Regions from separate parts of the Homo sapiens genome. Here all the other regions are linked to region 1. The links come from fine-mapping of genetic effects on gene expression. A gene starts in region 1. Each other region holds a variant in brackets. All regions are shown on one strand. Distances are between the middles of the regions.

What was found.
Region 2: its variant is fine-mapped to the expression of PTP4A1 in whole blood (TOPMed, PIP above 0.99).
Region 3: its variant is fine-mapped to the expression of PTP4A1 in whole blood (TOPMed, PIP above 0.99).

The regions. Positions count from the first base shown.
Region 1 is chr6:63,566,288-63,577,710 of GRCh38, reverse strand. PTP4A1 (protein tyrosine phosphatase 4A1) reads right to left here and starts at 5,231. Exons shown (of 6, transcript NM_003463.5): 1 at 4,992-5,231; 2 at 726-1,275. The coding sequence starts at 830. It overlaps LOC124901228 (translation initiation factor IF-2-like), which reads left to right and starts at 4,143. Exons shown (of 2, transcript XM_047419610.1): 1 at 4,143-4,179; 2 at 4,281-11,423. The coding sequence starts at 4,143. The coding sequence ends at 5,026. LOC128125822 reads right to left here and starts at 5,231. Exons shown (of 2, transcript NM_001415059.2): 1 at 4,992-5,231; 2 at 1-1,275. The coding sequence starts at 5,030. The coding sequence ends at 1,180. It also overlaps a transcript of LGSN not described here. RefSeq lists enhancers at 3,300-4,035, 3,730-4,099, 4,036-4,771, 5,153-5,447, 4,772-5,507 and 1 more and silencers at 4,640-4,769, 5,070-5,489.
Region 2 is chr6:63,347,062-63,358,484 of GRCh38, reverse strand. It overlaps a transcript of LGSN not described here. Among named protein-coding and RNA genes, the nearest start is that of LGSN, 33 kb to the right of the region's middle. RefSeq lists enhancers at 5,243-5,332, 5,433-5,702, 5,773-5,882, 10,155-11,354. The variant C/T (reference allele first, on the strand shown) is at 5,251.
Region 3 is chr6:63,778,345-63,787,699 of GRCh38, reverse strand. The region is part of intron 39 of EYS (eyes shut homolog); the gene reads left to right. Among named protein-coding and RNA genes, the nearest start is that of SCAT8, 24 kb to the left of the region's middle. The variant T/C (reference allele first, on the strand shown) is at 4,523.

The sequences.
Region 1 (11,423 bases):
GTGGCGTACGCCTGTAGTCTCAGCTACTTGGGAGGCTGAGGCAGGAGAATTGCTTGAACCCGGGAGGCAGAGGTTGCAGTGGGCTGAGATCATGCCACTGCACTCCAGCCTGGGTGACAGAACGAGACTCCATCTCAAAAAAAGGAAAAAAAAGTATTTCCATTATGTTCTGAGAGGCCTATTTGCTATTTCTTAACAACTGTAGGTATTTATAAAATAAAACATGTGCACATCCCGATATATTATTCAGCATTCAATTCCTTTCTCCTAGTAAAAAGAGGCAGGTAGAGTTTTGGCTACATAGCTACCATTAGGAAGGAACAGAATTTGTAGTTGAAAATTGGATTCTAAGCATCAGATGGGGTTCAAGAAAAACCAACTGGTTTATGGCATTAGTCATTAGGTTAAGCAGATATATAAAAAATCCATAAATGGCAACCTTTCCCATGTAAATTTCTTACAAGATAAGTAAGAGCTATACTGTTTTACTGTCCACATACCAATTCAAGCAAACTCAGGTACAATAACTATTAACTCAAGCACATGCCCTTCTCAAAATGTACAAATATACCTCTAACCTATAGAAGACATTGACATTTATTTCTGGGAACTGGAATTGTAGGTATATCATCTCATTTTTTCCAAAGTAGTTTTTATTTTGTTAGCTATAAGTCCCACTATTATATTGCAATCAATTTAAGCTACTAAAACATATCAAATCTTACCTCTATAAATTTGTTTAAGGTCGCATTGGTTGGATTGTGTGTAATAAGAAATCTCATGTTCTTGTATGTGACTTCCACAGGAGCTGGGCGGTTCATTCGAGCCATGTTAATTTAGTTAAAAAACACTCAATAGGGTTATGAAATAATTAAAAAAATTGAATACAGAAATGATGCAAAGAAACTGAAGTCTACTTCAATATACTCCACTTGAAATTCTCAGTGCTTTGAGTATGAAGTTGTAAGTAATGATAAGTGAAATGAACCTCCTAACAAGAAGCAGCAATTCTTCAATCCAGTAATACTGAGGCCAACAGAAAAGAAGTGCACTGAGGTTTACCCCATCCAGGTCAGAACTCTTGTAAAATGCTCTGTGGATTTCAATTCAACACTTCTGTGTCCAGGATAACCACTCTTATGGGGGCTTCTTGGTGGAGCAGTAATCAGTTTCTACAGTTCACTTGTCTGCATAGAGGTCGTGCTGTGCCTGGCAGTAATCTCCACTGCCCTTCAGAAACTCCATAAATGTGTGACCAAGAACACCACAGAATTGCTGTTTAAAAGAAAAAGACAGAAAGAGAGAATAAGTTATTTTCCAATTCAAAAGAAATACATTAGGGTTTTACACTATTTAAGTACACAACTATTTTTCTAAAGCAGGGCCTGAGCCGCTTCATCGACTTTTACTTGAATTGCAAAACTCAAGGGGTGAGTACAGATTAAATCAATCAGCATAAAACAAGCAGTCAGATAGATTAAACTGAAATCCATGATCTATTACCAAGATTCCTCAGAAAAAAAAACCAAACCCATTGTTACATTTTTGTGAAATTCATATATATATTCATATATATTCTATCTAGTTATATTCTCTGTATATATACTATCTATATATAATATATAATTATATGATTCTAATAATTATCCCTTTCGATAGTTGTTTTCTTTACATTGTAATTACATACACTTTATGTTGATTTTTCCAACTAACAAAAACATTTTTACACATTAATACAAACTCCAGATAACTCTGAAGTTATTAGTCTTGCATAATTTACTTAACTCATAAACTGAAACATCTAAGTTCTTTTCCAACTTTATGCTTTTATATCCTTTTCTTAGACTGATTTAAGTCCTATATTTAGAATCTCACTTTATCCTTAACAATCTGTTATCATTCCCATTAAACTGAAGACGAGGAAAATGAGTCTCTGAAAATCAACTTGTTATGTGAAATATCATAAGAATGTATGCTTATGAATCTAAAAAGGAAACAACTCTCATTTATAACTGTAAAGAAAATATTCATAATTTTAATAATGTTCTTTTGTATTTTAAAACCAAAATTTCACATATACAACTCAAAACTGAAATCCAACTCAGAGAAGGCGGACAAAGGGATGTTGAAGGTGGAAGTGGCAGGTCTCAAAAGCAAGGTAACTACTGTAACCAATAAATATAAACAAATATGAATGTATTTATATTTTCTCTAAGTTCCCCCTTAAGAACTAAACCATTTTTATGCCAATATCAAACATTAAACCAATAGTCACAGCATATTTTTAAAATATGTACATGGAAGACACTGATGTTAATAATCAGTCTTCTTCCAAATAGTTTATAAGGTACTTGTGTACTCGGGAGTAAAGAGGGCACTAAGGAAAGTATTAATAACAGGTTAACAAGAGCAGTAATTCATAGTCACTGCCTCAAGCACTTCATGTGTACTCTCATTACCAAAGTGTTTTAACAAAAGGTTCCATTAGTTTCCATGCTTAAATTTAAGCATTTGAAGTCTTAAAATTAAAATTCAAACGATCTGCTCCCATTTCCATTTTACACCTTTAAATAGTCCCATGCTAGTTATAGTTTCTAGAACTTTGCTAAATTTTGAAGAATAATTCTTATGATGATTACTGCAGAAAACATCAAGTCAAAAACCCAGTCTACTTTTCTGGTAAAACATACAACTAGCATTAACAATCATTTATCAAAAGGTCCCATAAAAAAGGTAACTTTCATTATCACAAGTTTGTTCAAACAAGCCCTCAGAGGTTACTTCACCTAGTTGGTCAGCTGGGTTAAAAAATTAAGTGTCTAAATTACAAAGCCATCACAGTTACAGTGAATACAGATTGTAGTAATCTGAAAATAATTTCATTATACTTTCACCCCAAATTCTAAATACAACCTCCGTAGAATAAAAAGTGTATTCTGACACTTTCCCAATGACATACAATGATCTTTAAAAGCTTTATAATGACTCATCACAGTATTCTAATTTCTAGGTATTACCTTTTTTTCAATTAAAAGCTAATTTGAGGCAGTATTTCACACCACTATTTCCATATTTAATAGCTAAAACTCCTGTCGGCTACAACCTAGTCTGGCCATATCCCTTCATGTAAGTAAGCACTTTCATCAGGAAGCAGAGAAAGAACTATATTAAGAATTCCCTTCCTGAAATGGTTATTTTTACTGAGTGGAGCCACCTAGTGGATGGGGGGACTCGTCTGTTAAAGCAGTGGTGGCCACCGATAGATTTCTGTTCCGCCCAAGACACTCCTCCATTCCCAATCTCCTACCCACAGGAAAAACTATCCATAATGGGGATTTTTTCCCTCCCACCTATCAGTTGCATTATAATCACAATCATATACAAGAAGGGAGAGGAGGAAAGAGTAATCTCTGTGCAGAAGCTTAAATCATTATTATACTGCAGAGTCAAGCCAATTAATGTGTGTAACTCCTTTGTCACAAACAATTCGTTGTATAGTCTGTTCCACATCTATTTAGGTCTTAGGGCACCTAAGAAAGCATGTGTAAAATGCTGCTCACTCTTGGGAATGATTTAGTTTTCTAGTTTTCAACTGACTGAGTAACAGGAAGCACTGCCTCAGGATCTAGATGTCGGGCAGGTCAACAGTTCCAATCGTAGTGTAAATAACTTAATACTCGTGGACTGGTAGGGGGCTCCGCGGACAGAAGATAAAAAACCCTCAGAATTCCGTCTCTGGTTGGCTACTGCTGCCACAAACCAACAGGAGGCAACAACATATTACACCACAGAGCTCAGGGATAGTTCTAAACAGTCCCCGATTAAAAGGCGCCATCCAGGGCCCTTCCAAAATTGGCAGGGGAAATGTATGCTGGTGCCCGGACGGGAAGTCCTTCGCGTCAGTGTAACTAACAGTAGCCCTGTCAGTTTCCAAGACGCTCCGAACCAGGCCATTTCTCGACGACTGGCCCAGAGAAAGGACAAGACTAGACTTGTTCCCATTATCACGAGCCCGAGGTGGGGCGATAAATCCGGAACAGCTCGAATTACCAGGTGGAGCCTGGGAGGAGGGCGGGGCGGACGGCCGAAGTTCTCACCTAGCAGAACCCCACTCTGGCCCGGGCAGGGGTGCAGCTCGCGGAATGCCCCAGAGGGCCGCCGCCCCGCGCACGCGGCTGTGTGCGCCCGAGCACGCCCGCTGCGCCCCCTCTCCGCGCCGCAATCACGGGTTCGCGCCGCGCCTTCAGTCAGGCGCGGGCGCCGAGGCCATTTTGTCTGAGGCTCGGGTCCCGGCCGTCGAGCACAAGAGTGTAGCTGCACCCAGTGGCTGTCCCGCGCCCACCCCGGAGCTCCGAGAAGCTCTGGAACCAGATCGTTACCACCCGTGCCTGGCTGTCCGGCCTACCCCACGCCCGCCCGGATCTGGAGGCGAACCCGCCACCGCCGCGCCCTCCCCGTATCCGGCTCCGCAGTGACACGCGCAGCCCTCGCCCCACCCCGGGCCACGTCTCCCGCTCCCAGTGCAGCCACTCTCCTCCGGCCGAACAAAGAGGCCCCGGGACGCCGCGGAGCCTGCCATGCCCGGACGGGTCGCGCCAGACCAAAGGGCCAAGGGCGGAGGCGGCGGTCACAAAGCGGCTTTTGTGCCACCCACCCGGCCCGCTGCGGAAGCCGAAACTGCCCCCGGCCGCCGCAGAAGCCGGACCGCGCCGCCCCCGTCGCTCCGGGCTCGGGAGGGACTCAAAAGCCGGTGCCTCCGGCGGCCAACCGCCACCCCGCAGCCCCGAGGGGCCCGGCATCTGCCTCCGCACAGCCGGCCGCAATCGGCCGGCCACAGGGCCATAACCCGCCCGCTCCCACCCGGGACCCACCGGAACCGCAACCCGGGGCAACCTGGAGGAGACGCCGGGCTCCGAACAAAGGCGACAGCGGGGATGGGGGGCCGGTCGTGGATTCCCAGCCCGAGAGGCGACGATGCGACGGCTACTCACAGGAATATGTTTACTCATTGAAGATTGTGGCCTAATCATACAGCCGGTCCCGAGGCGGCGGCGACACAGGCGGTGGCGGTGGCTGCAGGGCAGGAGGCGGCGGTGGTCGTGGCGGAGCGGCGGTGGCGGCGATGCAGGCGGCGGCGGGGGCACCAGACTCTACCATGCAGTGAGCGGCTCGGAGCAGAGCGCGTAGCCGAGCCGGCCCGCAGCCGAAGGAGCCAATACACGCGCCGAGGCGCCCTTGCGTCACAAGCCCTCCCCTTTATAGCCGGCGCGACGTGCAACCCTCCAGCCACCAATCGCGGCCTGGAACCGCGGGCCAGGAGCCGACAGGCGGGGGCGGAGGCCCGCCCCCTCCGGACGTCACTCCGCGGCGGCCGCCGCCGGTGTGAACCGGTTGATGAATGGCTAAGCGCCGAGTCGGAGCATCCCCGGGGCGGGGGAGGGAAGGGGCTGCCGGGAGTGCTCCGGGATGCAGGAAGCCTGAAGTTAAGAAGGGGTGGGAGCGAGAGAGATTCCGATTTATCGACTGGAAGGAATCATGCTGCAAACCACGTTTCTCATAATTAAAACGGTCCAGGAGTGCACACATGTCACATGAGGAGACTCGAAGTTTGCCTGAATCGTAAAATGCAATCCTTCTAGGGCTGGAACCGCGTCTCAGTGTCGAGCCTGCTTTCTACTGCCTTAACCACGGTCATCTTTGCCAGTGGTTTACCTTGGCACCTGGGCCCCGAGTACCTTCGTCATCAAATAATATTTATGTCGCAAGACCGCTGTACCCGGTGACTCAACACCTTGCATGCCACGGCCTTAGGCTTGGTCAAGATGAATTCTTGTCCCTGGGGGCGCTTTCAAGCGGGGAGAAACTTACCTTCGCAAAACTTAAGGCTATAGAAGATGGGGAGAGTATCTTTTGATGCAGACGAAGCCCTATGCTCCCTATATTCTTTTTTTGATCACACCTCTCTATACTACGTACGCGTGCAACTGCAGTTGGCTCAATTGTGGCATTTCGAAATCACATGCATCCTTTGTACTGCTGCTCACTTGATATGTTGTCTCAGATAATGAAAGGTTAGGAAGTGCTTAAAGAAAGCGTTTTTAGAAATTAAGAATCCTCGGTTTTGTCAAGCACTGATGTAATTCTTTGCGTCAAAGCTAAAGCTCTTCTTTATGTTCGTTTTCAGTCCTCTTTTACTGACTTCATTATTTAAGCCCCTAAGAAGTAAAGTCTTATCGCAATTCTGTGCCATACAAGGGCACCTCTGTTATTTATAATCTGAAAACCCTTTCTCCTCAGCTCTGGAGAAGGACCAAACAGGACCTTTACCTGCTTTTTAAGAACTCAGTTTTCCACTAACACTGAAGCCTTTTGTTTGTTATTTTCACCGAGTATGAGATTGGAGAGGGCTTTAGGGATCAAATTTTGTCCTCTTTCAGTGCCCTGCAACATCTTAGGATTTATTAGAACTTCTATTTAGAGACTGGTTGTATAGTTATTCAACTTTCTTAACTCTGTAAGTAAAATAAGAACTTTAAAAAAACAAAAACAAACAAAATCCTGGGCCAGACTTTCAAAGGAACAAAAACTCTTCGTCATTTGGAAGAAAATGGCTCACCTACGACACATTTTAATCCATTAAAATCAAGGAAAACTAGCACACTTGAGAAATATGTCCCTTTACAAATAAATGATTTAAAAAAGTAAAGACTTTAAAATCTTAAATTCTAAGAAAATATAGAAAGCTTAAAAATCTTGGGTGGTAGGGGCAAAGCTAAGCAGGCTGGGGAACTCATGTCGAAAAAAAGGGACAGATTTCATATATAAGAACTAAAAACTTTTATATGGCAAAAGGCTTTTGACAAATGTCAATTTCACACTGGGGGAAATATTGGTGATACTTCATGGGTAGGGTTAATATAAAAAGCTTGGCCAATGTATATAATAGTGTAGTTAAAAAGCACATATTCAGTCAGCCACTCTTACTCCACAAGTTGGTAAACACAGATAATTGGAATAGTGAAACTTTTTCATGTAATGGCATTTCAAAAAATACATTTGGTGGGACAAGATATAAACTCAGCAAATGATTAACAGAGCCAAATATGTGTTAGCCAATTTTCTTGTAGAACTTGTGATACAAGTTGTGAGCCTTGTGATCCACAGATCCTGTAATTACCACAAGCAGTGCTGACACGAAGTATCCAGTCAGCTATGCTCATCAAGTTCTAAAAGCTCTCAAATTCTCAAGTGGCCTGGGGGTCTTAGCCTCTCAGACAAGGTACCATCTTATCCTACTATGAAAGTAACATATTTAAAGGATGAAAAAATAAGGCTTTTGCTGTTGAGAGAAACGATGCATTTTATTTTATGTATTTATTTGAGATGGAGTCTTGCTCTTTTGCCCAGGTTGGAGCACAGTGGTGCAATCTTTGCTCACTGCAACCTCAGCCTCCTGGGTTCCAGCAATTCTCCTGCCTCAGCCTCCCAAGTAGCTGGGATTACAGCCACCTGCCACCACACCTGGCTAATTTGTTTGTACTTTTAGAAAACTCCATGTTGACTAGGCTAGTTTTGAACTCCTGACCTCAAGAGATCTGCCTGCCTCAGTCTCCCAAAGGAAAGGACACATTTTAAACAAGATATAAGTGTGGTCTTGCTGACCAATCCATTAAATGTTCCTGCTTGTCAGCTGCCATTGTGGTTCACTGCTATGCTGAGGGTGTCTGCTGTATTTAGTTTAATACTTTTAAGCTGCAGATTCTTGGAGAACAGTAGAACATCCCAGCATTGGTCAGGAGACTTCTGTGATTTGAGGACTCACTAACCCTTACAGACTTGCACTCAGAGCATTAGCACCTGTACTTATTTAAAGTGGGTCTCTAACAGACTTGAAAATAGTGCTTCCAGACATCAAAAAGGGAGAAAACACCTCTAAAAGCCAATGCTTACTCTAAGCTCCAGGAGAGGCTCTAAAATAGAGGATTTTCTCTCCTGCTAAACAAGATTCTCAGCTGGAAGTTACTTCTCTCAGCAAAACATGTGTCCTTAACCTCATCACGATAGGCAGGGCTTTCTATTGACAATTCAAAATATAAAAGCCAGCAGTTGGGAAATAAGACTAGAAGAATATTATAAGGAAGTTGAGCATGGTGGCATACAGGCTCATGCCTGTAATCCCAGTACTTTGGGAGACCAAGGTGGGTGGATCACCTGAGATTAGGAGTTAGGAGTTCAAGACCAGCCTGGTCAACATGGTGAAACCCATCTCTACTAAAAATACAAAAAATTAGCTGGGCATGGTGGCAGGCACCTCTAATCCCAGTTACTTGGGAGGCTGAAGAAGGAGAATCACTGGAAAGCTGGGAGGCAGAGGCTGCAGTGAGCCGAGATCATGGCACTGCACTCTAGCCTGGGAGACAGAGTGAGACTTCATTTCAAAAAAAGAATATTATAAGCGATATTTTTATGGAAGAGGAAAGACTGCAGAAGGCAAGAGTGCAGAGGAAGATTGGCAAATCTTGATGAAGAAGAACAGAGAAATCTTCACAAGAACAGCAGATCTAGTAAACATTGATTCCATTTTACCAAGTTTACAAAAGGAGTGAAGGATTCCTTGATTTTCAATCTTCTCAGATTGGTTGGGGCTACAAGGAAGTCTGATAAAAACATTTAACATAGCAAGAGTAATATCATTGCCATAATAGATTAAACGTGACAATATCAACCTAGAAAAAGACACTAGATTGCAAGGTATAATGACAGTCTAGCAAATATATGTAATAGAGGCAAATACCCCAATGGGCCATAATCTAGTAAGTGTCTGGATACTAGTGCAGAGGGTAAGTTCCCATACCCATATTTAACAAGAGTCCTAAAAATTCAAGTATGCCATGGCTGCTGTCAGCATTGTTAAAGTTTATTTCCCTCTTGCTGTTTTAGAACAGCCTATTTTATATCCAATTAATTTTCTTATATGATTATTAAAAATAAATATGTAGTATACAGGCATACCTTCATTTATTGTGCTTTGCAAATATTGTTTTTTTTTTTTAACAAAATGATGGTTTGTGACAGCTTTTTGTCGAGCAAGTCTATCAGAGCCATTTTTCCAATAGCATGTGCTCATTTCATGTCTCTGTGTTACATCTTGGTAATTCTCCCAATATTTCAAACTTTTAAATTATTATTGCATTTGTTATGGCAATTTGTGAACAGTGATCTTTGATATTGTTATTGGAATTGTTTTGGGCCACCACAAACTGTACCCATTTAAGATGGCAAACTTATTTGATAAATGTTGAATATATTCTGACTGCTCCGCTGATGGGCCAGTCCCTCAGTGAGACACAGCAATACTGAAATTAGGCCAATTAATAACCCTACAGTGGCCTCTGAGTGTTCAAGTGAAAGGAAGAGTCATTCATCTCTCACTTTAAATCAAAGCTAAAAATGATTAAGCTGAGTAAGGCAAGTTGAAAGCAGAGATAGGCCGAAAACTAGGCCTCATACCCAAAACAGTCAAGTTGTGAATGCCAAGGAAAAGCTCTTGAAGGAAGTTAAAAGTGCCACTCCAGTGAACACAGGAATGATAAGAAAGTGAAACAGCCTCATTGTTGATAAGGAGAAAGTTTTAGAGTTCTGGATAGAAAACCAGCCACAGCATTCTCTTAAGTCAAAGCCTAATTCAGAGCAAGGCCTTAACTCTCTTCATTTTTATGAAGGCTGAGAGAGGTGAGGAAGTTGTAGAAGAAAAGTCTGAAGATAGCAGAGGTGGATTCATGAGGTTTAAGAGTAGAAGCCCTCTCCCTAACATAAAAATGAAAGGTGAAGCAGTAAGTGCTGATGGAGAAGCTGCAGCAAGTTATTGAGAAGATTTAGCCAAGAACATTGATGAAGGTGGCTACACTAAATAACAGATTTTCAATGTAGACAAAACAGTCTTATACTGGAAGAAGATGCTGTCCAAGACTTTCATAGCTATAGAAGTCAATGCTTGGCTTCAAAGCTTCGAAGGACAGGCAGTTCTCTTGTTAGGGGCTGATGTGGCTGGTGACTTTAAGTTGAAGCAGATGTTCATTTACCATTCTGAAAATCCTAGGACCCTTAAAAATTATGCTAAATCTACTCTGCTGTGCTCTATAAGTGGAAGAACAAAACCTGGTTGACAGCACATCTGTTTAGCATGGCTCACTAAATATTTTAAGTCCACTGTTGAGACCTACTGATAAAACGTGATTTATTTAAAAATACTATTGCTCCTTGACAATGCACATGGTCACTGAAATGCTCTGATGGAGATGTACAAGGAGAGTAATATTGTTTTCATGCCTTCTAACACAGCATCCATTCTGCAACCCATGGATCAAGGAATAATTTTGACTTTCAGGTTTTAATATTTAACAAGTACATTTCATAAGGTTATAAATTGCTGTAGATGGTGATTCCTCTGATGGATCTAAGCAAAGTAAACCAAAAACATTCTGGAAAGGATTCTAGATGCCATTAAGAACATTCATGAGAGGAGGTAAAAGTATCAGCATGAACAGGAGTTTGAAAGAAGTTAACTCCAACTCTCATGGATGACCTTGAGGGCGTTCAAGACTTCAGTGGAGGAAATCACTACAAATATGGTGAAAATAGCAAGACAATTGGAGTTAGAAACAGAGTCTGAAGAGTTGACTAAATCGCTGCAATTTTATGATCAAACTTGAATGAATGAGGAGTTGCTTCTTATGAAGGAGAAAAGAGAGTGGTTTCTTGAGATAGAATCTACTGCTGGTGAAGATGCCGTAAGCATTGTTGAAATGATAAAGGATTTAGAATATCACATAAACTTAGCTGATAAAGCAGTGGGTGAGTTTTAAGAGGACTGATTGCAACTTTGAAAGGAGTTCTCTTGTGTGTAAAATACTATCAAACAGCACTGCCTGCTACAGAGAAATTTTTTGTGGAGTCATCAATGCAGCAAACTCCATTGTCTTATTTCAAGAAATTGCCACAGCCACCTTAACCTTCAGCAACTACCTCCCTGATCAGTCAGCTGCCATCATCACTGAGGCAGGATTCTCCAACAGCAAAGATTATGACTTGCTGAAGGCTCAGATGACTGTTAGCATTTTTTAGCAAAAGTATTTTTAAATTAAGGTATTCTAGGGTACCCGTTTTCCCCACTTCCTTTCTGTGTCTTGACCAAAATCACAGTGACCCAGCCAGCTGTAGCCATAGGTTTTCCTCAGCTGGCTTGAACCCAAACCAGCTTGAACATTCCCAGGCACTGATAATAATGTCTTGGTTTACTGGAAAGAAACTGACCCCGACCCTGAGCCGAATTCCTTAAATTTTCATGTAAACTCCATCCCCTCACCCCCTGGCTACAGACTAATGTGGGTAAAACATCCCTTTTCTCTTGCTGTCCATCACAA
Region 2 (11,423 bases), 220 kb after region 1:
AAATGGAAGAACATTCCATGCTCATGGGTAGGAAGAATCAATATTGTGAAAATGGCCATACTGCCCAAGGTAATTTATAGATTCAATGCCATCCCCATCAAGCTACCAATGACTTTCTTCACAGAATTGGAAAAACTACTTTAAAGTTCATATGGAACCAAAAAAGAGCCCACATTGCCAAGACAATCCTAAGCCAAAAGAACAAAGCTGGAGGCATCATGCTACCTGACTTCAAACTATACTACAAGGCTACAGTAACCAAAACAGCATGGTACTGGTAGCAAAACATAGATATGGACCAATGGAACAGAACAGAGCCCTCAGAAATAATGCCACATATCTACAACTATCTGATCTTTGACGAACCTGACAAAAACAAGCAATGGGGAAAGGATTCCCTATTTAATAAATGGTGCTGGGAGAACTGGCTAGCCATATGTAGAAAGCTGAAACTGGATCCCTTCCTTACACCTTATACAAAAATTAATTCAAGATGGATTAAAGACTTAAATGTTAGACCTAAAACCATAAAAACCCTAGAAGAAAACCTAGGCATTACCATTCAGGACATAGGCATGGGCAAGGACTTCATGTCTAAAACACCAAAAGCAATGGCAACAAAAGCCAAAATTAACAAATGGGATCTAATTAAACTAAAGAGCTTCTGCACAGCAAAAGAAACTACCATCAGAGTGAACAGGCAACCTACAGTATGGGAGAAAATTTTCGCAACCTACTTATCTGACAAAGGGCTAATATCCAGAATCTACAATGAACTCAAACAAATTTACAAGAAAAAAACAAACAACCCCATCAACAAGTGGGCAAAGGATATGAATAGACACTTCTCAAAAGAAGACATTTATGCAGCCAAAAGACACATGAAAAAATGTTCATCATCAGTGGCCATCAGAGAAATGCAAATAAAAACCACAATGAGATACCATCTCACACTAGTTAGAATGGCGATCATTAAAAAGTCAGGAAACAACAGGTGCTGGAGAGGATGTGGAGAAATAGGAACACTTTACACTGTTGGTGGGACTGTAAACTACTTCGAACATTGTGGAAGTCAGTGTGGCAATTCTTCAGGGATCTAGAACTAGAAATACCATTTGACCCAGCCATCCCATTACTGGGTATACACCCAAAGGATTATAAATCATGCTGCTATAAAGACACATGCACACATATGTTCACTGAGGCAGTATTCACAATAGCAAAGTCTTGGAACCAGCCCAAATGTCCAACAATGATAGAGTGGATTAAGAAAATGTGGCACATATACACCATGGAATACTATGCAGCCATAAAAAAATGATGAGTTCATGTCCTTTGCAGGGATATGGATGAAGCTGGAAACCAGCATTCTCAGCAAACTATCGCAAGGACAAAAAACCAAACACCGCATGTTCTCACTCATAGGTGGGAATTGAACAATGAGAACACATGGACACGGGAAGGGGAACATCACACACCGGGGCCTGTTGTGGGGTGGGGGGAGGGGGGAGGGATGGCATTAGGAGATATAACTAATGTTAAATGACGAGTTAATGGGTGCAGCATACCAACATGGCACATGTATATATATGTAACAAACCTGCACGTTGTGTACATGTACCCTAAAACTTAAAGTATAAAAAAAAATTGGGGGTTGTGATTTTAACTTACATTTCTTTGTAACCATAAAGATGCTTTAAAGATTGGAAGACAATTGGTCATGTTGCAGTTTTGGCACTTAACATCCTATATTTTCAGGAGAAGATATCTCTTCTCCTAGGTATATGCATGGCACAATTCCTCAGTGTCTGTTCACATCTTACCTTCTCTATCCAAATGTCACATCTTTGACTACCTTACCTAAACATGCCTCATCTCTTGACTGTTACTTTTATTTCTTTTACTCTGCTTTATTTTTATTTTTCTTATTTTTTAACTTTTTGAGACAGAGTTTTGCTCTTGTCGCCCAGGGTGGAGTGCAGTGGCATGATATCAGCTCACTGCAACCTCTGCCTCTCAGGTTCAAGCGATTCTCCCACCTCAGCCTCCCGAGTAGCTGGGATCACAGGCACGAGCCACCACACCCAGCTAATTTTTGTATTTTTTTAGTAGAGATGGGGTTTCATCATGTTGTTCAGGCTGGTCTCGAACTCCTGACTTCACGTGATCTTCCTGCCTTAGCCTCCCAAAGTGCTGGGATTATAGGCATGAGCCACTGTGCCTGGCCTGCTTTATTATTATTTTTTTAAATGTGGACTATGAGTTGAATTGTTTTTCCCCAAAACGATAACTTGAAGTCCTAACCTTCAGGATCTCAGAATGTGATCTTATTTTTAAATACAGTGTTTGCAGATGTAGTCAAGATGAGATTATTAGGGTGGGCCCTAGTGCAATATAACCGGTGTCCTTATAAAAAGGGGAAATTTGGACATATATATATAGATGTGCGTAGAAGGAAGAATATGTGAACAGATACAGGAATAACACCATGTGAAGACAGAGTACTGGCGAGGTCCAGTGGCTCACGCCTGTAATACCAGCACATTGGAAGGTCAAGGTGGGTGGGTCACCTGAGGTCAGGAGTTCACAACCAGCATGAGTAACATGGTGAAACCCCGTCTCCACTAAATACAAAAAATATTAGCCAGGCATGGTGGCACATGTTGTAATCCAAGCTACTTGGAAGGCTGAGACAGGAGAATTGCTTGTACCTGGGAGGCAGAGGTTGTGGTGAGCCAAGATTGCACCATTGCACAACAGCCTGTGCATCAAGAGTGAAACTCCGTCTCAAAACAAAACAAAAAGACAGAGTACTGGAGTGATGCATCTACAAGCCAAGGAATGCCAAAGATTGCCAGCAAACGACTAGAAGCGAGAGAAAGGCCAGGAAAGATTTTCCTCCAGGTTTCAGAGACAGCATGGCTCTGTGGACACTTTGATTGAACTTCCAGCCATAAGAATTAATGACACAATAAATTTCTGTTGTTTTAAGTTACCCAGTTTACAGTACTTGGTTATGGCAGCCCAAAGAAATGAATACACCACCTGGCATAGGATGTACTCTTTTTGTTGTTCAATTTCTGCCTGCCTCTACTAGACTAATTACCATGAGGAAAGAGACAAAGTACATTTTCTTCACTTTTGTGCCCCAAGTACTTAGAACAGTGCCCAGCACTCAATACATATTTGCCAAGAGAATGTAGGGATATTTTATTTTTCATTTTTTTTTAAATTGATACATAATATTTGTATGTATTTGTAGGGTACATGTGATATTTTGTTATATGCATAGAATGTGTAACCATCAAGTCAGGGTATTTAGGATACACATCACCTTTTCCATTTATCATTTTTATGTGTTGGGAACATTTCAAGTCCTCTGTGTAGCTATTTTGAACTATACAATACATTGTTGTTTACTGTAGTCACCCTTCTTTGCTATGGAACTTTAGAAACTATTCTTTCTTTTTCCTCCCCTACACCCACACCCACACCCATACCCTTCCTAGTCGTTAGTAATTGTCATTTTACTCTGTACATCCAAGAGATCAACTTTTTTTTTTTCTCCCATATATGAGTGAGAACATGCAATATTTGTTTTTCTGGGTCTGGATTATTTCACTTAACATAATGATCTCCACTTCCATCAATGTTGCTGCAAATGGTATTATCTCATTCTTTTTTATGGCTAAATAGTATTCCATTGTGTATATGTATCATATTTTCTTTAATCATCTGTTGATGAACACAGGTTGATTCTCTGTCTTTGCTGTTGTGAATAGTGCTGGAATAAATATGTGAGCGCAGATGTCTCTTCAACATACTGATTCCTTTCCTTTGGATAATTGCCCAGTAGTGATAGATCATATGGTATTTCTATTTTTAGTTTTTTTGAGAAATCGCCATACTGCTTCCATAGTGGCTGTACTAATTTACATTCCCATCAACAGTGTACAAGAGTTACCTTTTCTTTGCATCCTCACCAGCATCTGTTATATTTTTGTCTTTTTAATAATAACTATTCTAACTGGGGTAAGATGGTATCTCATTTTGGTTTTAATTTACATTTCCCTGATGATTAGTGACGTTGAACATTTTTTCATGTATTTGCTGGCCATTTGTGTGTCTTCGTCCAAGAAATGTTATTCAGACCTCTTGCCCACTTTTTAAAGGGATTATTTATTTATTTTTTTTGCTGTTTGAGTTCCTTATGTATTTTGGATATCAGTCCCTTGTCAGACAAGCAGTTTGCAAATATTTTCTCCCATTCAGCAGGCTGTGTTTTCATGATATTGATGGTTTTCTTTGTTGTGCAGAAGCTTTTTAGTTTAATATGGTACCATTGTCTATTTTTATTTTTGTTACCTGTACTTTTGAGGTCTTAGCCATAAAGTCTTTGCCTAGACCAATGCCCTAAAGTGTTTTCTCTAGGTTTTTTCCCTAGTAGTTTTATAGTTTGAGGTCTCATGTTTAAGTCTAATCCGTTTTGAGTTGATTTTTATATGTAGTGAGAGATAGGGGTCTAGTTTCATTCTTCTGTGTATAAATATCCAGTATTCTTAGCACCATTTATTGAAGACGGTGTCCCTTTTCCCAATGTATATTCTTGGCAACTTTATAAAAAAAATCAGTTGCCTTATATGTAGACTTATTTCCAGGTTCTCTATTCTGTTTCATTGGTCTATGTGTCAGTTTTTGTATCACTGTAATGATGCTTTGGTTACTATAACCTTGTAATATATTTTGAAGTCAGGTGGTGTGATGTCTGCAGCTTTGTTCTTTTTGCTGAGGACTGCTTTGGCTACTCAGGCTCTTTTTTGGTTTCATGCAAATTTTGAGATTGTTTTTTCAATTTCTGTGAAAAACATTATTTTTTCTTTTTTTTTTTTTTTTTTTGCTACAAACTGCTTCTTTCTAAAAGAGAAATCTAAGTCCAGGTATTAATGAAGTAGGAAAAATTTCAATAATTATAAGAGTATAGTAGAAAACTTCACCTTACGTTCTGTTATGGTTCCCTACAAAATACTCTGTGATAGAAGCTATTTCTCTGGTAGGGAGAGTCTTAAACATCTGTGAGCATATCCAGGAAGGCACTGTTGCCAGGGATGGGAACATTTTCTGCACAGGAGACCCTGTTAGGTACTAAGGATCAGGTTTTCCTGTGTGTCTCAGGATGTTGCCTATTGCCTCTTGCCTGTTGGGTCTGCAACAGAAATCTGCAATTTCTGGCCAGACTGCTCAATTTCCTTC[C/T]CCTTTGGTGTTACTGACCTCTGCTGTTAAAAAGCAGCGCCTCTGCTTGCCTCTAAAGCTACTCTCTGGTTTCCAACCATTAAAACATTCAATAACCAATCTCATCATTCTGGAAAACAAATATCCTGGAGCTCAAAGGCTACAGAGACTTTTCCAATTATTTCCTAAAATGGCTTTTTAGATTTGAAAGTTCTTCTGTGAGAACCAGGGTCACGTGTCTGTCTTCAGCGTTACAGAGAAAGACAGATGGAGGTTGTTGCGCTCACAAGAGAAAAGGAAACTTAAGGCAGCTTCCCCTTTTCTTGACCACCGGATGTGTCTTCTGCAACTTCTGTGAACTCCAGTAATTGAGGTCATATTGTGGCATTAAAAAAAAATCCAGCTGTTTGCATGGTTCCCTTAATCCTTACTCTTATCTAATTCAACCACCTAATCTGGCCAAGAAATGTGAGGGGAACAAAATTCTATCCCTTTGTTTGAGAGACAGATGAACAGTCTCTAACATAACCCACAAATAAAACTGTGTGTCTGTGTGTGTGTGTGTGTGTGTGTCTGTGTGTGTGTGAGAGAGAGAGAGAGGAAGAGAGAGAGAGAGAGACAGACTGGAGTGCGGTGGTGTGATCATGGCTCAGTGAAGCCTTGATGTCCCAGGTTCAAGCAATCTTCCCGCCTCAGCCTCTTAAGTAGCTGGGACCACAGGCATGTACCACCACACCTGGTGAATTTTCGTATTTTTTGTAGAGATGGAGACTCTCTATATTGCCAGAGCTGGTCCCGAAATTCTTGGTTCAAGCAATCCTGCCTCAGCCTCCCAAAGTGCTGGGATTCTAGGCGTTAGTCACTACACCTGGCCAAACAAAACATTTTTAAGATTATTGATCTTAGTGGAGTCCTTGTGATAAGGCATAAGCATGACATTCCAAAATAGAAAGAATACAAAACAATGGATTTGCGCATAAATATCTCTACTAACATGTGAGTTTTGGAAAATTCCCTATTTCATGAATCATTAGCTTGTAAGTTTTGTTTTGATGTTATACAAGCATTTCTAAAACAAGTCTGTGTAGATGTTGCCACCTACTGTTTGCCTAGAAACATCCTTCATATAATTCATTTCATGTAACAATAGTCTTTTTTCTAATTGCATTTATTTTCCAGGAAGGTCATTTCTGTCTCAACCATTTCTTGTTTTAAAATTATTTGTCTATTTGTTACTTACTCTTAAGTACCATATCTACGAGGTCATTACAAGAAATTCTTTCTTTATACATTGGAAAATCCTGAGGCAATGACACAATTTTCTTTAAATGTTCTCTGATATATTGAAACAGTAAATCAGTCTCAGGTTTAAAAAGACTATACAGTATATGTCATTGAAACATCATTTAAAAAATTATTAGTCTCCATGTAAATCAAAGTGGTCAAGATCATTAGATTGCTGTTAGTTTTATTTTGACATTCATATTTAAGATATTTAGGCTGAGTGTGGAGGCTCATATCTGTAATCTTAGCCCTTTGGGAGGCCGAGGTGGGTGGTTCACTTGAGGCTAGGAATTCGAGACCAGAGTGGCCAACATAGGAAGACCCCGTCTCTACTAAAAATACAAAAAATTAGCCTGGCATGGTGGCGGGCACCTGTAATCCCAGCTGCTTGAAGCTGAGGCACAAGAATCACTTGAACCTGGGAGGCAGAGGTTGCAGTGAGCTGAAATCGCACCACTACACTCCAGCCTAGGTGGCAGAGTGAGACTCTGTCTCTGTTTCTGTCTCTCTTTCTCTGTCTCTCTCTCTCTCTCTCTTCCTCTCTCTCTCTCTCTCACACACACAGACACACACAGACACACATACACACACACACACAGAGATATTTATAAAGCAAATATCTGCTTTTTTTCCTTCCTTTTGTCTTAATCTTTTCAGGCTGCTATTAGAAAGCACCATAAACTGGGTGGCAGATAAATATCAGAAATGTATTTCTCACAGTTCTGAAGTTTGAGAAGTCCCAGAACAAGACACTGGTAGCTTTGGTGTCTGGTGAGGGTCTGCTTCCTCACAGACAGGGTTTTCTCACAGTAACCTCACATGGTAGAAATGGGAAGGGATCTTTCTGGGGTCTCTTTTATAAAGACACTAATCCCATTTGTGAGGGTTCCATTCTGATAACCTAATCGCCTCTCAAAGGACCCACCTCTTATGTTAACCTTGGGGGTTAACATTTCCACATATGAATTTGGGTGGAAGAGACACAAATATTCAGAATATAGCACTGTAAATAGTTTTGGATGTTAGTGATTGAATGGCAAATTCTTTTTTATTAGGATAAAAAACCAATTGTTTTACTTACCAATTGGTCGTCTGAACTCGTTTTTGTTTGTTTGTTTTTTTTTTTTTAGATGGCTCTGTGGCCCAGGCTGGAGTGAAGTGGCACCATCTCAGCTCACCGTAACCTCTGCCCCACAGGTTCAAGTGATTCTCTTGCCTCAGCCTCCTGAATAGCTGAGATTACAGGTGTGCGCTGCCATGTCCAGCTAATTTTTGTATTTTTAGTAGAGAGAGCGTTTCACCATGTTGGCCAGGCTGGTCTGGAACTTCTGACCTCAGGTGATCCACCCACCTTGGCCTCCCAAAGTGCTGGGATTATAGGCGTGAGCCACCACCCCTGGCCTGAACTGTTTACTTTGTAGTTAGTTTTATGATGTGCCTGTGGCACTATTTTCAGTATGCTGTTTATTAAAACTGGAAATAAAGTAAAAAATTTTAAATCTTCACAACCAGGTTAATTTGAATGCACTGAGATAATTTATGGTTTGCAGACAAATAACTATGACTAGATCCAGTAATAATTATAATTACAAATCTGTAAAATATTTTCCAGTTTGTGAAGTCCTTTGTATATTTTAATAAATTTGGTCCTACTAACAACCCTGTGAAATAATTAATATAGTAATTGCTTTCATATTATAACCAAAGAAAGAATGAAAGAAATCAAGGTAATAATTGAATAGAACACAGCTAGAATAACTCTATAAATCCAGTTTTCTTAACTAAAAAGCTTACTCACTTTTACCATTCCTCATGAGTTAATTATTAGGTTGGTGCAAAAGTATTTGCGGTTTTTGCTAATTACTTCTGCACCAACCTTAATAATTTACATGATAGGTACTGAACTCTTTTTCAACTTTTCCTTGTTGAATGAATAGTTTTAAAATGCTTTCAAATAATCAAACATTCTTCTAAATCTTTGGGTAGGTCTCTAATAACTGAAATGGAACTATATTCATCTTCTGTGAAGCTGGCCTGGATAAACCAGCTTATCCCTAAATGCCACCAGAATGCGTTGAGAAGTGGATTGTTCCCAGTCTCCGTAGAAGGACTCAGCCTACCCAACACCTTGATTTCAGTCTTATGATAACTTGAGCACAGAACTCAATCACGTCGTTAGTACATCTCATCTACAGAAGCTGTGCTATCATAAATTTGTGTTATTTTAAGCCCTTTTTATTGTAAGACTCTGGTTCCTGTTTCCTTGCTGGTTGTTGGCCAAGGGCACTTTCAGCTTCCAGAGGCCATCTGCATTCTTTGCCATGTGGTCCTCTCCATCTTCAAAGCCCGTGGTGGAAAAACTCTCCCTTGTCGAATTGCAATCATAGTTTGAATCTCTCCAACTTCCCTGTTGCTGACCTCTAAACACAGATTAAAGGGTTTGTGATTAGGTCAGACTTTCTTAGAATGTTTCTCAACCTTAACTGATTTGAGGCCATAGCCACATCACAAATCTTTTCACAGCAACACCTAGATTAATGTTTGATTGAATACCTAGGAGAAGGTGTTTTTGCACCAAGGGTTGGGAATTTAGGGGCCTTTTTAGAATTCTACCAACCATGTTTCTCATCAGCTACAAATATTTCCTAATTTAGCCCCCAGTCTCCAGTCTCTGCCTTAATACTCTCACAATTTACATTACAGAGTGGCTTCTTAATGAATCATTCCAAAGCACAGTTCTGATTAAGTTTATTATCTTACTTAAGTCAATAACAACAAAACAACCAAAAGTTTGAGGGCAGCCTATGGCATGTAAGAAGCTCTTTGAAAATCAAGGTCTAAAGGACTCCTGTTTCTCTTCCTTTCTTCATGCATCATTAAATTGAGTATTCACCTTGTTTTTCTGTGCACAGTAAGCTCAGTGCTTTGACTTCTGCCCCCTTTTCCTTATCTTCAACTTTACAGGAACAATTCTCGATTGCTTGAAGGCTGCATTCCAATGCTAACTCTTCCAAAGAACTTTGCATTAACTTGTTCCCCTTTGAAAGCCTTTACTACGTAGTTTTAAAAATCTATACTTCTGGCCAGGTGTGGTGGCTCATGCCTGTAATCTCAGTGCTTTAGGAAGGCGAGGCAGGAGGATTGCTTCAGGCCAAGATTTCGAGACCAGCCCGGGCAACACAGCAAGACCCCACCTCTATTTTAAAAAAGCAAAAAAAAAAAAAAAAAAAGTAAAAATCTTCATTTCTAGTGTAGTTAGTATCCTACTTTGGGTTAAGATACTAAATAATGCTCCATGACTCCTACCAAACACAGATTACTGTAGGCCAGATGTGCAATAAGATGTTGTCTCTCTTCAACATCTACTAGTGCCTTGTAGAGATGATATGTTCCAAAATATTTGTTGAGCCGTTAACTAAAAAATCAAAATAGAAACTAGAATGCCATGCGCACCAAGAGCTCGTAGACCTGCATTGTGAATGCTTAATTACATTTCCATATATTTTTTTTTTTCTTTTGAGACAGAGTCTAACTCTGTCGCCCAGGCTGGAGTGCAGTGGTGTGATCTCGGCTCACTGAAACCTCCGCCTCCTGGATTCAAGCAATTCTCCTTCCTCAGCCTCCCGAGTAGCTGGGATTACAGGCATGCGCCACAGCTCCCAGCTAATTTTTGTGTTTTTAGTAAAGACGGGGTTTTGCCATGTTGACCAGGCTGGTCTCGAACTCCTGACCTCAGGTGATCTGCCCATTTCTGCCTCCCAGTCCATACTTTTATATTAGTCTGTTCTTTCTTTTGTGGCTGCTAGTTTTCAAGGTCATTGTCTCCTGAGCTGCTGTATTTACGTTAGACTATATTCTTCAGCTCTTGGCTAATATTGAATGACTAGCTTATTTATGCTTTCTTTTGTTATAAATCAGTGGTTTTATTTGTTTTTTTCTTACTTGGAGAAAGGAGTTTCTCCTCCAATTTTAAGAAAATTTTCAAGAGCTAGAAGCAGACTTGATCTTATATCTTATTTTCTTATTCACACAATTAACCTTTTTCTAATATTAGGAATATTTCCCTACAAGTCATTCCTGACTAATGGACTCTGCTGTATGAGTCATATATGACTTAGCAAGCATTTTGGATTTTTAAATAAGTTACCGCTTATTTAAGCAGGCTGCAGAAACATTAGTCATTGTGAGATTCAGCTTACATGTTTTCACTTAGTGACTAATTGAGTATAAGAATGGAACAGATATTTACGTGGTAATTTTCCAAATTTTCAAAAGACTTTGGCATCAGTTATCTTATTTCATGAAATGTGTCACTGTAAGATAAGCAGTTCCTTATCTTAGAGACCTCTCTAGCCTTTTAAGCATACTGGAAAAAGCCATCTTGGAAAACAAATGAATGAATGAAAGAATGAATGAGTGAATGAACTGATGGAATAATGATGGATTAGAAAAGACACTGAAGCAGGAAAGTCATAGACCTTGAAATTATATGTCTGAACAGTAAATTAGACCTTATAACTTAACTGAAGAGCACAAAGAAGACCTAAATCAATAGTAAACCATATTATTATAACCCTCCAAATTGTAAAAATGTCAATTTCCCCCAAATATTTAGTTAATGCAAATTCAAAGTACTTTGGAGTTCTTTTTTTTGTTTTAAAAAAGACTGGTTTTAAAATTAATCAGTAAGGAAAAATACATAAAACTAAGAAATTTTGAAAAGAAATAATGAAGTAAGATTTGCCCCATGAATTGTTTTTCCCTCTCCTACTCACCACTCATTCTCAGTTCCTCACTTCTGACACCAGATGGGTAGGATTTATTTTTCCCCACATACTAATTCTCCAGCAAACATCAACTGGGTGTCTCTGGTGGCACAGAGCTTCCAATCCCTTGAAATTTCCTGGATG
Region 3 (9,355 bases), 210 kb before region 1:
AAAGTGCTGGGATTACAGGCCATGCCCAGCCTCATTTACTATTTATTGACCACTTACTACATATGTACTAGATGTTTAGGATGTTTTAATGAACAAATCAAAGATTTCTGCACTTATAACTAGTTGGAGAGATAAACACTAAATGTAATTAGTTAATTATATAGTCATATAATGTGATAAGTTCAATGGGAAAAGGGAAATGGAGAGCATGATTTAAAGGAATCAGGATTATGGGTAATTGTTTATACAGGGTGCTTTTTAAAATAGGCTGAGCAGGGTAGACTTCAAAGAGTCACAGTAAAAATTGAAAGTCCATCTAACTTTGAAGTTCAAAAGGCAAGAGACAGACTGCAGTCAACCCATCCATACCACCAAGGGGTAGCCCACAGAGGCCAGAGCAAGCCAAGAGGATTAAGGACAACATTGTGCTTGGGTGAGCAATCTTATTGCCACAGTCTGTCTTCCTGTGTTCAAATAGTTCCGTGTTCAAATGAGATCAGCACACACAGAGCTGGCCCTTTCTCTTACAGAAACATTAAGATTGCACACTCCTGGAAGTATGTCAACTGCCACAGTCTTTAGTGAGTATGGGAATCTTGGGCAAGTCTTCTTGGAAATTGCCACTTATGCCACAGTCTTATAGAAAATTCAGGACCTTGAGATCCCCTAATTTTATCATTCTTCTCTTGGATCCTCTCTTAATGTCTGCCTTCCCTCCACTCTAAACTAGCATTTACTATTTATTATAAATCATGGCGTATTGTTACCAACTTACCAGGACAACCAAATTGCAACTGTACCATAAATCCATGGTTCCCAAAGCTGATCTCTACTGGTTCTGAAGAATAATATAGGATAACTTCTTAAAAACACAGATTTCTGAACCCTACCCAAGAACTATTGAATTGAAATCTTTACAGTGGGATCTAAAAATTTGCATTTTAACAAGCCTCCCAGATTTGGAAGCCACCATATATTTTTTAAATTATCTCTTTTTTTTTTTAACTTTAAGTTCTAGGATACAAGTGCAGAATGTGCAGGTTTGTTACATAGTATACATGTGTCATGGTGGTTTGCTACACTCATCAACCCATCATCTAGGTTTTAAGCCCTGCATGCATTAGGTATTTGTCCTAAGGCTCTCCCTCCCCTTGCCCCCCACCCCTTGACAGGCCCCGGTATGTGATGTTCCCCTCCCTGTGTCCGTGCATTTTCATTGTTCAACTCCCACTTATGAGTGAGAACATGAGGTGTTTCATTTTCTGTTCCTGGGTTAATTTGCTGAGAATGATGTGGAAGCCACCACATTAATTAATCATAACGAAGCAAAGCAAATGGAATTTTCTGAAAGAATTTAATAGTTGGAGTAAGGATATCACATTTGTCCTTAGAATTACAATTAAATAATGCAATAAAATATTATCTGATCTAGGCTTTTACATTTTTATAAACTCTTTATTTTTATTTTACTTTACCTTTTTTTTTTTTTTTTTTTGAGTCTCGCTGTGTCATCAAGGCTGGAGTACAGTGGTGCCATCTCAGCTCACTGCAACCTTCATCTCCAGGGCTCAATCAATCCTCCCACCTTAGCCTCTCATGTAGCTGAGCCACTAAACCCAGCTAACATATCCTTACAAAGCTGATTTATATTGTAGTAGAGTTATAAAATAAAGACATGCTTTAAATTGTAATAACAATTCATTTGGTGAAGATAGCTTTTTGGTAGATCCTAGTCCCAGGGTACTTGGTCAAAGGTCTGTTCTTATAGTGTTCTCAGTCACTCAACCAGGTCTGGCCTACTATCCATGAACTTGAGAACTGCATCATCACACCCAGTTAATTTTTGTATTTTTATTAGAGACAGGGATTTTCCAGGTTGCCCAGGATGGTCTTGAAATCCTGGGCTCAAGCCATCCGCCTGCCTCGGCCTCCCAAAGTGCTGGGATTGCAGGCTTGAGCCACCGTGCCCAGCCGATTCCTATAAACTCTTGATAAATAACTCTAATCCAAAGTTCGTGATCTAAAATATAAATCCTTACTGCTAATAAAGCACATTTGTTTTTGTTCTAAAAAATGGCTTATAATGAACCATTATTTTTTCTATGACCTTTAATGCTCATAAAGGTATTGAGACTAACCACCTTAAATAATCTACATCTGCCAAATACGCTGTGCCTTACTGTTTTATCTGCCCTAATAAGATCAGTTCTCCTCTCCTCTGCTTTCCAAAGTTGCATCTGCTACAAAGCTGCAGAGTTCTCAGAATGAGGCTCATGAATGGTGGTCTCAGACTGGGCACGGAATGAAGGAAGGAAGACAAGAAGATATGGAAGAAGGGAAAGGAGGAATAAGGGGAAGAAACAAGTAAAACTGGTTAGGCCACAAGTGAAAATAAGCTGGGTCCTTTCACTAGAAGTTCTGTTGCCTGTAGATAATCTTGCTGAGCTGTTAATTGTGCTAAAGGCAGCTATAGAAGCAGAATAACTGAAGTGAAACATCTCATCTTCACCACAAATGCCTTTTCTGAATATACTTCTTTACTTATTTCTTTTACTATTGCTACCAGTCCCTCTAATACTTGTTTGAATCCTTTGTACAGTGGTTCTCAAAATGTGGTCCCTGGGTCAGCAATATCAGCATCACTGGGAAGTTTGTTAGAGATGCAAATTGTAATTGAACCAGAAACTCAGGGAATGGGGCCCAGTAATATGTATTTTAATGAGCTCTTCAGGTGATTCTGATGCAACTGAAGTTAGAATGACAGGCTTACTGTCATCTTTGACTACTCACCCTTCCCTGATTAACTGACACATCATAACCCTATTGCCATGCTAATGAATTATACCATTTTCCTGCTCTAGAACGCAACAGACACCCTGTCAACTCTAGAATAATAACTGAATTTTTTACATGGTGATATGGTTTGGATTTGTGTTCCTGCCCAAATGTCATGTCAAATTGTGATCTCCAGTGCTGGAGGAGGGGCCAAGTGGGAGGTGTTTGGATCATGGGGGTAGATTTCCCCCTTGCTGTTCTTGTGATAGTGCGTTCTCATGAGATCTGGTTGTTTAATAGTGTGTATCACCCCCCTTCACTCTTTTCCTCCTGCTCCAGCCATGTAAGACATACCTCCTTCCTCTTCACCTTCCATCATGACTGTAAGTTTCCTGAGACCTCCCCAGCCATGGTTCCTGCATGGCCTGTGAAACCATGAGCCAATTAAATCTCTTTTCTTTATAAATTACCCAGTTTCAGGTAGTAAGTTACAGCAATGTGAGAATGGACTAACACCCCTGACATTCCAAAACCCATGTATTTTTTCTATACTTAACTCGCTTCCACTGATTTTTTAATTCAATAAAATCTATCTGTATTAGTCAGGCATCTCCAGAGAAACAGAACCAATCAGGTGTGCACAGAGAGAGAGAGAGAGAGATTTTTAATAAGGAATTGGGTCACATGATTATGGAAGCTGAGAAGTCCCAAAATCCACAGTCAGCAACCTGGAGACCCAGGATAATTGATGTGTAGCTCCAGCCTGAGTCTGAAACCCTAAGAACAAGGAGAGCAAGTGGTGTGAGTTCCAGTCTGAAAGCCATCAGGCTCAAGACCCAAGAAAAGCCAATGTTTCAGTCCAAGTACGAAGGCTGGAAAAGACCAATGTCCCAGCTCAAGTAATCAGGCAGGAAGAATTCCCTCTTTTTTGTTCCATTTAGGTCTTCAGTGATTGAATGAGGCCCACCCACATTAGGGAGGGCAATCTGCTTTACCCAGTTTATCAATTCAAGTGTTAATCTCATCCTAACACACACACACACACACAATATTTGACCAAGTATCTGGGCACCCCATGGCCAAGTCAGGTTGGCACATAAAATCAACTATCACTATATCTAGCCACTGCCTCTCTGTATGTCTTATTTTCCCTGCCTCAGGGCCCGTGCTTAAATCAGCATTCTCCACCTCTTCAAATTCCATTTGCCTGGAAAGCAAGCTCAAATCACACCTCCTCAATGAGAGCCCACTCTCTGAGCTCACTCATTGAGAGTGAGCTCTTTCTGAAGTCTTTGGAGCACCAAGTCTTTTCCCACTTAGCATTTCATACCTAATATAATTATATACCTAGAGAATGTATGTCTTAATTTAGAATTTAGTAAGCTTCTGGAGAATAGGATTTTTAGTTTTTACTGATAACAGATCTCCACAGCACCTGGAATGGTGCTTTCACATAATACATGCTTGTGACATGTTGTTACCACCAGATCTTTCCCAGACTCTCTTACAGCTATGCATGACCATGTGCCTGAGTTCTGGCCAGTGAGATGTCAGCAGGTGTAATAGTTGCTACTTCCAGGCCTTGCCTATGAAAATCTTCTGCACAGTCCTGTACTCTGTTTGCCAACTCACCTGGATGCCAACCCTAACCACCCTTTGGACTTTACATGAACAGGAAATAAGCTTCTAGTGTTACAGCAACTACTGCTCATTGATATGGAGGTTATTAAATATTTACTACTCTGAA[T/C]AGAGTGGACATGAGATAGATTCAGATTTATTAACAACCCTGTAAATGAGAGTTATTCTCATCTAAAAATAGCCAACACGGTCAGTACTTTCGGTTTCTTGTGAGTTCAATTTTTTTCTCTCTCCTTTTTTTAATCATATGAGATTCTTCAAAGAAGAGCCCATATGGGAAAATGTAATCAGTTTACTGCAATAATTTAGAAACCCAGGATAAAAAAAAAAAAAGCTATACTGCAGTTTAAAAAAAAAAGCTATTACTTATTTGGTACCTAGTCAGTCAAATGGTTGGCTAAATGCCAACAAGAGAAAGCAGGAAAGATCTAAAATTGACACCCTAACAACACAATTAAAAGAACTAGAGAAGCAAGAGCAAACACATTCAAACACTAGCAGAAGGCAATAAATAACTAAGATCAGAGCAGAACTGAAGGAGATAGAGACACAAAAACCCCTTCAAAAAATCAATGAATCCAGAAGCTGGTTTTTTGAAAAGATCAACAAAATGGATAGACTGCTAGCAAGACTAATAAAGAAGAAAAGAGAGAAGAATCAAATAGATGCAATAAAAAATGATGAAGGCGATATCACCACCGATCCCACAGAAATACCAACTACCATCAGCGAATACTATAAACACCTCTACACAAATAAACTAGAAAAGTTAGAAGAAATGGATAAATTCCTGGACACATATATCCTCCCAAGACTAAAGCAGGAAGAAGTTGAATCCCTGAATAGACCAATAACAGGCTCTGAAATTGAGGCAATAATTAATAGCCTACCAACCCAAAAAAGTCCAGGACCAGACAGATTCACAGCTGAATTCCACCAGAGGTACAAAGAGGAGCTGGCACCATTCCTTCTGAAACTATTCCAATCAATAGAAAAAGAGGGAATCTTCCCTAATTCATTTTATGAGGGCAGCATCATCCTGATACCAAAGCCTGGCAGAGAAACAACACAAAAAGAGAATTTTAGACCAATATCCTTGATAAACATCAATGCAAAAATCCTCAATAAAATACTGGCAAACTGAATCCAGCAGCACATCAAAAAGCTTATCCACCATGATCAAGTTGGCTTCATCCCTGGGATGCAAGGCTAGTTCAACATACACAAATCAATAAATGTAATCCATCATATAAACAGAACCACAAACAAAAACCACATGGTTATCTCAATAGATGCAGAAAAGGCTTTTAACAAAATTCAACAGCTCTTCATGATAAAAACTCTCAATAAACTAGGTATTGATGGGATGTATCTCAAAATAATAAGAGCTATTTATGACAAACCCACAGCCAATATCATACTGAATGGGCAAAAACTGAAAGGATCCCCTTTGAAAACCGGCACAAGATAGGGATGCCCTCTCTCACCACTCCCATTCAACATACTGTTGGAAGTTCTGGCTAGGGCAATCAGGCAGGAGGAAGAAAGAAAGGGAATTCAATAAGGAAAAGAGGAAGTAAGATTGTCCCTGTTTGCAGATGACATGATTGTATATTTAGAAAACCCCATTGTCTCAGCCCAAAATCTCCTTAAGCTGATAAGCAACTTCAGCAAAGTCTCAGGATACAAAATTAATGTGCAAAAATCACAAGCATTCCTATACACCAATAACAGACAAACAGAGAGCCAAATCATGAGTGAACTCCCATTCACAATTGCTTCAAAGAGAGTAAAATACCTAGGAATCCAACTTACAAGGGATGTGAAGGACCTCTTCAAGGAGAACTACAAACCACTGCTCAATGAAATAAAAGAGGACACAAACAAATGGAAGAACATTCCATGCTCATGGACAGGAAGAATCAATATCATGAAAATGGCCATACTGCCCAAGGTAATTTATAGATTTAATGTCATCCCCATCAAGCTACCAATGACTTTCTTCACAAAATTGGAAAAAACTACTTTAAAGTTCATATGGAACCAAAAAAGAGCCCATATTGCCCAGACAATCCTAAGCAAAAAGGACAAACCTGGAGGCATCACGCTACGTGACTTCAAACTATACTACAAGGCTACAGTAACCAAAACAGCATGGTACTGCTACCAAAACAGAGATATAGACCAATGGAAAAGAACAGAGCCTTCAGAAATAATAGCACACATCTACAACCATCTGATCTTTGACAAATCTGATAAAAACAAGAAATTGGGAAAGGATTCCCTACTTAATAAATGGTTCTGGGAAAACTGGCTAGTCATATGTAGAAAGCTGAAACTGGATTCCTTCCTTACACCTTATACAAAAATTAATTCAAGATGGATTGAAGACTTAAATGTTAGACCTAAAACCATAAAAACCCTAGAAGAAAATCTAGGCAATACCATTCAGGACATAGGCATAGGCAAGGACTTCATGTCTAAAACATCAAAAGCAATGGCAACAAAAGCCAAAATTGACAAATGGGATCTAATTAAACTAAAGAGCTTCTGCACAGCAAAAGAAACTACCATCAGAGTGAACAGGCAACCTACAGAATGGGAGAAAATTTTTGCAATCTACCCATCTGACAAAAGGCTAATATCCAGAATCTACAAAAAACTTAAACAAATTTACAAGAAAAAATCAAACAACCCTATCAAAAACTGGGCAAAGGATATGAACAGACACTTCTCAAAAGAAGACATTTATGCAACCAACAGACACATGAAAAAATGCTCATCATCAGTGGCCATCAGAGAAATGCAAATCAAAACCACAATGAGATACCATCTCACATCAGTTAGAATGCCGATCATTAAAAAATCAGGAAACAACAGGTGCTGGAGAGGATGTGGAGAAATAGGAACACTTTTACACTGTTGGCGGTACTGTAAACTAGTTCAACCATTGTGGAAGACAGTGAGTGGATTCCTCAAGGATCTAGAACTAGAAATACCATTTGACCCAGCGATCCCATTACTGGGCATATACCTAAAGGATTATAAAACATGCTGCTATAAAGACACATGCACACGTATGTTTATTGCAGCACTATTCACAATAGCAAAGACTTGGAACCAACCCAAATGCCCATCAATGATAGACTGGATTAAGAAAATGTGGCACATATACACCATGGAATACTATGCAGCCATAAAAAAGGATGAGTTCATGTCCTTTGTAGGGACATGGATGAAGCTGTAAACCATCATTCTGAGCATACTATCCCAAGGACAGAAAACCAAACACTGCATGTTCTCACTCATAGGTGGGAATTGAACAATGAGAACACTTGGACACAGGGTGGGGAACATCACACACTGGGGCCTGTCATGGGGTCGGGGGAGTGCGGAGGGATAGCATCAGGAGGAATACCTAATGTAAATGACGAGTTAATGGGTGCAGCACACCAACATGGCACATGTATACAGTATAACAAACCTGCAAGGTATGCACATGTACCCTAGAACTTAAAGTATAACAATGACAAAAAAAAGAAAAAGAAAGCTTTTTATGCCTCCAAAAAAAAGTTTTGAAAATAAAATTCAATCTTGCCTTTATTTTATCATTTTAAAGACCTTATTTCTGGTTGATGTTCCCATTTATTTGAAAGAACTTTGCAAATAAACTATAAGTAACTGCTAAAGGAGCTGAGTAAAATTACAATACATTTCAGGATTTCAAACACTTTCATTTCAAATTTTTCACTGAACTGTCCTTTTTATTTACATATATTTATCCAATCTTGGGGTAGAAAAGTTATTTTTGTTTGTTTGGTTTTTTTTTTTTTGAAACAGACTCTCGCTCTGTTGCCCAGGCTGGAGTGCAGTGGCGCGATCTCAGCTCACTTCAAGCTCTGCCTCTGGAGTTCACACAATTCTCCTGCCTCAGCCTCCCGAGTAGCTGGGACTACAGGCACCCGCCACCACGCCCGGCTAATTGTATTTTTAATAGAGATGGGGTTTCACCATGTTAGCCAGGATGGTCTCAATCTCCTGACCTCGTGATCCACCCGCCTCGGCCTCCCAAAGTGCTGGGATTACAGGCATGAGCCACCGTTCCCGGCCGAGAAGTTCTTTCTAAAGATGTATAGAAAGGCAAAATCTCTGAAAGAAAAAAGAGAAAAATGTGACAACATAAACATAAACTTCTTTACCTAAAAAAAAAAAAAACTACCATAGCAAAATTGAGTGGTAAATATTAAACTGGAGAAAGTTTATTTACCGTATATTACAAATAGCTAATGTCCTCATTATATAAGGAGACTCTCTTTATATACTATAAATACAAATTATAATATAAATTATGAATGACCAATAAATTTGTTAAAAGATTTTTGATACCCAACCAAAAACGGTAAAATAGTATTTTATTAGCTATCGCATGTAAAAATGAAATGGAATGGTAATCCCAGGCATGGTAGTGCCTGTGAAGAAAGGGGTATCCCAGTCTCCTGAGTCCAGTTGTGATCTATGGGGGACACTTAGGCATACTTCAAAGCATCTATATCTTTTCCCCTAGTAATTCTACTTCTAGAAATATGTACTAAAAATAATTTAAATGGACAAAGATATACACATAAGATATTCATTACAATTTTATTTCTAATAGCAAAAAGTATAAATAAGTCAATGGTATAATAATTATAGGTTTATTAAATATATTTTGATATAAGAAAATATGCCATCACTTAAAAATAGTTAATGCTACAAGAAAAAAGTTAATGTTATTTATGATGTTCAACTTTTTGGTATAATATTATATTTTCTACAGCTTAGTGCAGATTGCATTTTTGTTTAAAAGAAAATATGACTAAGCATAGAAAAAATACCACACACACACACACACCAAAATGTTAATAGTTGTCTGCTGTGAAATGATATCATGAATGACTTTTAA